Linked DNA regions of Homo sapiens: region 1 is linked to region 2. The links come from fine-mapping of genetic effects on gene expression. Tissue or cell type: whole blood. Region 2 holds a variant in brackets; the other region holds the start of a gene. Each region is shown on its reference strand, or each on the opposite one. Region 1 holds the start of DEDD2 (death effector domain containing 2). Region 2 overlaps KDM5C (lysine demethylase 5C).

Region 1 (4,390 bases), not on the chromosome of region 2:
GCCCCCAGCTCTCCCCAAGGAGTAAGCAGGCCTCTGTGCAGGCTCCCCAAATCTTCTCTTCTAGAGCGTGATCTTCAGACATAGATATCCAAAAATGCTGTCAGCTCTTCCCTAGAGCTGTCCTTCTCCTGCTTATCTAAATCCTGTGGGCTTACTCTGGGTCAGGGAAGGCCATAATCCCCCCTCCCCAAACTAGCCACTGCCCCTTTAGTAACCCAGACAAAGGCTTGGTCTATTCATGCACACGGCTACCGGCAGCCTGAACCCCTCCCAGCTTCTCATGTGAAGGCTGCTATCCTCCAGGAGCACTTCCTTCACAAGGATTAAGGGCATCAACTCTGGGGACAAGTTGGCTAGGTTTGAATCCTGGCTCCCACACTTCCCAGCTACGTTCTCTGCAAGCCCCTTCATGACATAACTTCTTACCTCCCTCTCTTCCCTAGCTTGGGTCCCCTCTGCTCCTGCCACACTGGCCTCTGATGATGCCAAACTCATTCCCACCTCAGGCCTTGGATGCTCCCTGGGATTTTCTCCCCTGGGGTCTATGCATGGCTGGCAGTGCAGCCTCAGGGCAAAGCCTCCCTTCACCTTGCTGCTCTCCTGACTCTCTCTATTCCATTACTTTTAGTCTTCCTACAACAGCGTCTAAAAATAAGTTCTCTTATTATCTGATTGCCCCCACTAAACTTAAACTTCATGGAACAAACACCTTGTCAGCTCCATCATCCTGTATCCCTCCTAGGCCCAGCAAACAGGATTGTTATTATACGTGCAAACTGCTTAACTTCTCTGAACTTGTTATTTTCTTGGTTACAGTGAAGACAGTAACAGGACTTCCTTGTGAGATTACTGGGAGACTATAAGGCACTAGTTCATATGAAGGGCTGACAGCTGTGCCTGGCATGAAACAAGCCCTCCGTAAACAGTGGCCAAAATCATCATCACTGATGTGGCCAAATTCCCAAAGCCATGCTTTCTTCCTCTTATGTTGCTCATTGATATTGTGGGAAGAGAGAGTAGCAGAATGGGACATAAGCTGCCTGATATGGCACTGTCCGTATCAGGGCACCAGGGAGGCCCAGCGGGAGCCAGGCCCTTTCCTCCCAGGAAGTGTGACACCCTCCCATTCAACCGTACCTGGCCGGCGCCGCTTGCGCGCCAGGTGCGGCAGCAGGTCGTGGCGGGCCAGCACGCGCAGGAGTTGCCCCAGCAGCCGCAGGTTGCTCTCGTCGCACTGCCCGCGGCGCTCCAGCTCCAGCAGGAGCTCTAGGCCGCTGCGGGCCCGGGCTAAGCCTCCGGCGGCGCCAGGAGCCTCATCCAGCAGAAAGGCCAGGAGCTCCAGCTCGCACTCGGTCAGTTGCCCGCCCACCACCTCGAACATACGGTGAAGCGACAGCATCCCGTAGTAGTCCAGGCACTCATCCTCCTCCCAGCACGGGGCCGGGGTCGACCCGGATAGCGCCATTCCCGGGGGAGGGAGGCGGAACAAGCTCAGAACCCGGCCTAGAACCCACACAGCGGGGAGGGGGCAGTGGTCAGCGACGCGGAGGCCCGAACCCCACACCGCCAGCGCGTCTCCCCCGCCCAATCGCGCCGGGCAGGGCCGCTCCCGCACCCCCAACCGCCTCGGCCTCCCCCTCCCCCGGGAGGGAATGGTCCCGCCCGAGGTCCCCTAAGAACAGGTCGGGACGCCGGAGCCCGCTCGGCTTCTGCCCCCACCACCGTGCTACGTTCGGAGCTCGCCTCCGGACCTGACCAAACGATGCGGCCCAAACAAGCCTCGGGGCCCACCCCGGGGCTCCCTGCTGACTGCCCCTGACTCTGGGTAGGACTGCCCAGACGAGCCCCTTTTCTCCGTCCAGCGGTACCGTCTGATGAGTCCCCCGGCTCTACGCAAGTGGTACCTCCCGAAAGTGACCCTCTGCCCCCTACACAGAGGAGCGACCCAGGCAGCCCCTTTGCTCCACACAGGTGGTACCGTCCGAACCCGACCCCCTCGCCCTGCAAGGGCGGCCCCGCCCGCTCCCCAGAGCCCAGGTGGTCCTGTCTACCCGCCACCAGTCACCATTAGGCCTCTCTGGATCCTCACCAGATTCTGGCGTCCGATGACTCCTGGGCGACGGCCGCAGCCACTTGTTTTGGATCTTTCTGGCACCTTCTCTATTATTACGCCTGCGTCACCTCGCCCCTCCTCCTTCCCCCAACTCGCGCAGGTGCGACCGCCACGCCCCTTCGGCGCATGCGCAGAACGAGGCCTCCAAGCCCCGCCCTTCCTGGGCCGCTTGACCTGCCCCCAACCGAAGCATCTTGGTTCGCGAGTGCTGCGCTTGCGCAGAGCGAGAGCACGCCGCCTCTTGGGCTGTATCTGGTACCCGGTTCCAGGTCCCTACTTCCTGCCCGTGACTCAAGCCACCGGGGCCATGTAGCGCCACGTCACGAGTAGTTGTAACTACTCATCTCATAAACTACAGCCCCCTCCTGATCACGAGCTAGACGCCCACATCACCACTGCCCCTAGTTGCCCGTGGCAAAGTAACACAATCACTACTTTCCCGTCTCCCAGTAAACTCCCAGGCCTTATATGATCTGGTCCTGGGCACTCCTCCATTAGATTGTCCCTCACTTCTAGTGACAACCAGGGATCTACATCTCAACTGTGCTCTCTCGTGATCCCAAATGGAAATCCCGCCCCCCCACCACCACCCCCGCAGTCTATAAGTTCCTTCCCCTGATCAAAACCAGAATTCCCTCATCTCACGTTCAGGACGGATACCTCCTTCCAAGCGGCAACAGAACCCTCCATTCCGACTGTGTACATCTCGATGGCGTCCATCACGACCCCCATCACAGTCAGATGTCTCCACCCAGAGCCAAAACGGCCCCTCCGTAACCCCTTCCAATCTCTGCCCTCCAGGGTCGCCCAGATACCCGCTCCCTAACTTGCAACAACTAGAGAGGGTCTGTCAGGGAGTCTAGGCTGTGGTGTATGCGTGTCCCCTTACCGCGGGGCCTTGGGTGTGACGGTCGCCACGCCCCCCACTTAGGTGACTCAAGGTCAGGACCTGCATGTACTTGAGACAAGTCCCCTCCCTGGACCTCTTCCCACCCCCGCAATTAACTCCTCTTGGGAGTCGGGAGATCTGGGTCCTGCCTAGCACTGGCCCAGTACTGGCTCTGCCTGAGCTGTAGCAGTGAATTCAAAAGAATCGGCTGCGCGCGGTAGCTCACGTCTGTAATCCCAGCACTTTGAGAAGCCGAGGTGGGCGGATCACACGAGGCCAGGAGTTCGAGACCAGCCTGGCCAACATGATGAAACCCTGTCTGTTCTTAGCCGGATGTGGTGGCACGCGCCTGAAATCCCAACTACTTGGGAGGCTGAGACAAGAGAATCTCTTGAACCAGGGAGCAGTAAGCAGAGATAGTGCCACTGCACTCCAGCCTGGGCCACAGGGCGAGACTTTGTCTCAAGAAACAAACAAACGCCAGGTGCGGTGGCTCACGCCTGCATTCCCAGCACTTTGGGAGGCCGAGGCGGGCGGATCACCTGAGGTCGGGAGTTCGAGACCAGTCTGACCAACATGGAGAAACCCCATCTCTACTAAAAATACAAAATTAGCCGGGCGTGCTGACGCATGCCTGTAATCCCAGCTACTCGGGAGGCTGACGCAGGAGAATCGCTTGAACCCTGGAGGCGGAGGTTGCCGTGAGCCGAGATTGCGCCATTGCACTCCAGTCCGGGCAACAATAGCAAAACTCTGTCTCAAACAAACAAACAAGACCGGACGCGGTGGTTCACGCCTGTAATCCCAGCACTTTGGGAGGCCGAGACGGGTGGATCACCTGAGATCAGGAGTTCGAGAGCAGCCTGACCAATATGGCAAAACCCCGTCTCTACTAAAAAATACAAACATTAGCCGGGCGTGGTGGTGGACACCTGTAATCCCAACTACTCGGGAGGCTAAGGCAGGAGAATCGGTTGAACCCGGGAGGCGGAGGTTGCAGTGAGCCAAGATCGTGCCACTGCACTCCAGTCTGGGCGACAGAGTGAGACTCCGTCTCAAACAAACAAACAAACCCTCCAAGAAATCCCTTCCCCTCTCTGGGCCTCAGTTTCCCTACTTGTGAAACAAATGGATGGCAATGGTAAGCTACGGAAGCATAGTCCTGGGCTAAACTCACAAGGGGGCCTGGTAAGTGACTATCATTAAATCAAACGAAGAGTAGGGAGAATAGGAAAGCAATTTAACAAACTGTGAAGGATTCTGTCTTGCTAAGTGGGTTGTAGTGGGCGCCTACAGTGTATGAGCGCTGTGCATGTGTGATATCATCCAATCCCCTAAACAATCTTTGAGGTGGCTGTGACTCAAGCTCACTTCACACCAGTAAAACA
Region 2 (4,361 bases):
ACAGCCTCGGCAAAGTTGTAGCCTTGGTTGAAGCCGCTGTGGTAAGCACGGGGGAAGGTGATGACAAACTCTCCTGCACACTGGTTTGTGCGGACAACCTGAAGAACACAAAAGGCCATGGCTGTTGAGATAGAGATTTTCCTGTATACAGACCTGACTTAAGTGCAAGGTAATTAAGGAGACAAAGAAAAGCCTCAGGGAACACAGTCTGACAACAGAATCCCAGACTCTCCAACTCTGAAAGGAAGGACCACTGGTCTCTGCTCTCAAGGTTTTGATGTGTGTTGAGATGATAGGAAGATTTGAGATTAAAAAATATATCTGTCAAAATATTCCAACTTCCTTAGTAATTTTTGCAAAAATTATAAATATCACTTTTAATCAAGCTGGACAAGCTTTTTTAGTTATTTACTTTCATCAGTTATATATGCAGTTTGTAGAGTCAAATGGCTCTATAAAGATCTGTTATAAAATCAGCCAGCCTTGCCATTCTCCCTTCCCCACAGCCAATCACTTCCACCTCTTCTGATTATTTTGGCGTTGATTATAACTACCTTAAATAACATGCTTCTAGACTATGTTAAAAACAGCCTCCTGTTTCTCAATTTGCTCAGTTTTTTATGCATATATCCCTAATTTTCTGACCAATATTTAAATCTCTTTTCCTATCAATTTTCATCTTTCTGTAGCAGTCTCATGCAACCTTCTGATCTGTCCCAATCTGGACCAGCTGTCCTCCCTGGATCATCACTCTCTTGTGACAGATCTCCTATTTCCTAGATCCCACGTCTTCCTCTTTCTTGGTTTATTCCTTTGCTATGCTTAAGAACATCCTCCAACAGTTTCCTGAGAAATGGTGTGAAGAACCTACTTTTCTTTTTTTAAAGAAAGTCTCTATTCTTACTCTCACACTTGACTGTATATAGAATTCTAAGATGAAAATCCTTTTTTTTTTTTTTTGAGACGGAGTCTCGCTCTGCCGCCCAGGCTGGAGTGCAGTGGCACGATCTCGGCTCACTGCAAGGTCCGCCTCCCGGGTTCACGCCATTCTCCTGCCTCAGCCTCTCCGAATAGCTGGGACTACAGACGCCTGCCACCACGCCCGGCTAATTTTTTGTATTTTTAGTAGAGATGGGGTTTCACCGTGGTCTCGATCTCCTGACCTCGTGATCCGCCCGCCTCGGCCTCCCAAAGTGCTGGGATTACAAGTGTGAGCCACCGCGCCCGGCAAAAATCCTTTTTTTAAAAACTCCCATAGTTGTTGACTCAGAAAATAATTTTAAAGGCACACTGCTCTGATCTTCTAGTGTTACTGTTGAAAAGTTCGAAGCCATTCTGATTTCTAATGCTTGATAAGCATTTGAAACCTGTTTCTCTCTCTCTCGAGCTTATAGGATTCTTCTGGTCTCAGTGTTTGACATGGAAATTTACAGGATATATCTTGGTATGAATTTCTTTTCACTCATGTACTGGGTAGGCCCATTGACTCTGGAAAATCGGTTCTCCAGTTCAGGGAAATTTTCTTGAGTGATTTCATTAATGATTTCATCCTCTCAGTTTTCATCTATTTTCTTTTCATAACTCCTATTTGAATATTGAACCTCCTAGAAAAATTCCCTAATTTTTTCTACCCTTTTCCATCTTTTTACTCTACTTTTTGGGAGATTTCCTCAACTATTCATCTTTCAAAAGTGGAAAACATACACTTTTTACATTTTTCACTTTTGCTATCATAACTTTGTTTGCGGTATGCTATTTTTTTAAACAGTATTCTGGTCTTCATTCATTTTTACAGTATATGCCTTTCTTTTGAAGTTTATTTCTCCCTGCCTAGCCTCTGTATCTCCAAGTTGCTTCTGTTTTTTGGGGGATTTTTTAGGGTTTCCTCAGTTTTTTGTTTTTTTTTTTTGACGCAGAGTCTCACTTTGTCGCCCAGGCTACAGTGCCGTGGTGCAATTTCGGCTCACTGCAACCTC[G/C]GCCTCCCGGGTTCAAGTGATTCTCCTGCCTCAGCCTTCCAAGCAGCTGGGATTACAGGCACACGCCACTATGCCGTATTTTTAGTAGAGACGGGGTTTTGTCATGTTGGCCAGGCTGGTCTCAAACTCCTGACCTCAGGTGATCCACCCACCTTGGCTGGGATTACAGGCGTGAGCCACTGCACCGCACTGGCCTCTCAGTTGTTAATCTGTGGCTGCCTGCTTATATTTAAGAGGAAGAGATTAAAAAGCTAAATGGAAGCTCTGAGTACACAGATGAAGCTTGTCAACTGTGAGCTTCACTGTAGGGTGATCTAGCTAAGCCATTTAGTTTGGGAAACTCCAGGTCTTTCCTTGCAGGCCAGTCAGATTCCCCAAAGAAAATCCTTTTTTTTTTTTTTTTTTTTTTTTTGCCTGTAGGAAAAAAGGCCTGGCAGCCAGTGTTCTAACAGCCAAGTGGAGAATGATGGCTGGGAACCTCAGCATCCAGTATGATAAATCCTAATTACATTCCCTATAACTCCACCTTCAATTGTACCTAGGAGACCTTAAACCAGAGACTCTGTTTTAACCTCTTCAGAAATAAATCTTCAGTCTTTTACTAGAGTGACTAGACATTTCTAGCTGCCCAGCATGGGAGGGTATCTCACAGCTTTTTTTTTTGAGACGGTGTCTCGCTCTGTCGCCCAGGCTGGAGTGCAGTGGTGTGATCTCGGCTCATTGTAAGCTCCGCCTCACGGGTTCATGCCATTCTCCTGCCTCAGCCTCCCGAGTAGCTGGGACTACAGGCATCCGCCACCATGCCCGGCTAATTTTTTGTATTTTTGTTAGAGACGGGGTTTCACTGTGTTAGCCAGGATGGTCTCAATCTCCTGACCTCATGATCCACCCGCCTCGGCCTCCCAAAGTGCTGGGATTACAGGCGTGAGCCACTGCACCCGGCCCTCACAGCTTCTTATACAGACATGAACCAATCCTTATTTTCACCCCATCCATCTTTACCCCTAGAATGCCTGGTGCCACTGATAACAAATCTTTGGGGGATTCTGAGGTATGAATCGGGCTGGTTCTCAAGATGTCCTCAGTAGTGGCTTATGTTTCAGTTTTCTCATCTATCTGTTTTCTAGTTTCAAGAATTTTATCATTGTCTCCTCTCTCGTATTCTCCATCTCTGTAATTTTTTTCACGTTAAAAAATCCCTTTATGTAATTTTTGTGGAGTTTCAGTACAGAATGGAAGTAGCCATGTGTATGCTTAATCTGTCATCTTTACTGAGAAGTCTCACAAAGCTTTTTAAGATAAACATTCAATTTTGGTGAAGACACAGTGAAGTAGGTACAGTGCCGGTAAGGGAATAAATACATTCTACTCTCTGGAAAACAAATTTGCTAATGTATATCAAGAACCCTTCAACCCAATGATTCCTCTGCCAGGAGTCTAAATTAATTTGGGGAGAATTAACATCCTAACAATATCAAATCTTCCCATTCATAAACATATCTCCACATTTATTTGGACCATGCATCAGCTCCCACCTCCGTCATATTTTCTTCTCAAATCTATCTCTACTTAGAGGCAACATCAGCATTTCTTTCTTACCTGTATTACTGCACTGGCCTCAATTACTAACTGCCAGAACTATCTTCCAAAAATAGCAAATTTGACCATGTAATGCCTCAGCTGAGAGCCTCTCACTGGAATCCCCATGCCCACATGATTAAGCCACAGCTCTGACAGGTAAACTCTTACTCTTCTTTCAGGGATCACTGCTCCTACAAAACCTTTCCTGATAACCCCCGCTTCCTAAATGACCTAGTTTGTTGCTCTTTTGCAGCACCTTTAATGCTTTATTCCACTTATTTACTCCTCTGTCCAGCACTCAGCTATGCATACACAAACGCAGGCACTGGGTTATTTGCCTTCTGAGTGTTGACCAGAGAGGCCTTGCACAAAGAATGAGCTCTAGCAACATTCACTGAATGATCTAGTCCCAGGCTTAGTTTTATTTATTATTAATTAATTAGAAGGGGTCTTACTATGCCAGCCTTAATTTTATCGACAAGAAAACTAAGTCTCAGATAAGCCTCAGGTAGCAGAGCCAGGAGTAGAACTTGATGCTCATAACTCTGTCTCACCCTGCACCCTGATGCTGGCAATGTCACTTTACTATTTCCTATGTGGTTATTTAGAAAAGTTCTCCTCACATTCTGCAGCTGTTAAAAATGACAACTGTGAATAGCCAAAAAGTAAAAACAACTCAAAAGGTTCATCAACTGGTGTATATTACTGGGCCATCAAAGGAATAAAGTTCTGATACATGCTGCAATGTGGATGAACCCCAAAAACATGCTAAGTGAGAGAAGAAACAAATGACCACATATTATT

What was found. PIP is the estimated chance that this variant, and not a neighbour inherited with it, causes the effect. A credible set is the group of variants that fine-mapping cannot tell apart.
Region 1: DEDD2 starts here. The variant in region 2 is the best candidate, but not a certain one, in a credible set for the expression of DEDD2 in whole blood (TOPMed, PIP 0.66).

What each region holds. Positions count from the first base shown.
Region 1 is chr19:42,215,543-42,219,932 of GRCh38, forward strand. DEDD2 (death effector domain containing 2) reads right to left here and starts at 2,135. Exons shown (of 5, transcript NM_133328.4): 1 at 2,090-2,135; 2 at 1,138-1,503. The coding sequence starts at 1,465. RefSeq lists silencers at 1,266-1,471, 1,553-1,612, 1,623-1,722 and enhancers at 2,494-3,370, 3,371-4,246.
Region 2 is chrX:53,201,876-53,206,236 of GRCh38, forward strand. It overlaps KDM5C (lysine demethylase 5C), which reads right to left. Exons shown (of 26, transcript NM_004187.5): 13 at 1-98. Among named protein-coding and RNA genes, the nearest start is that of MIR6894, 5.1 kb to the left of the region's middle. The variant G/C (reference allele first, on the strand shown) is at 1,977.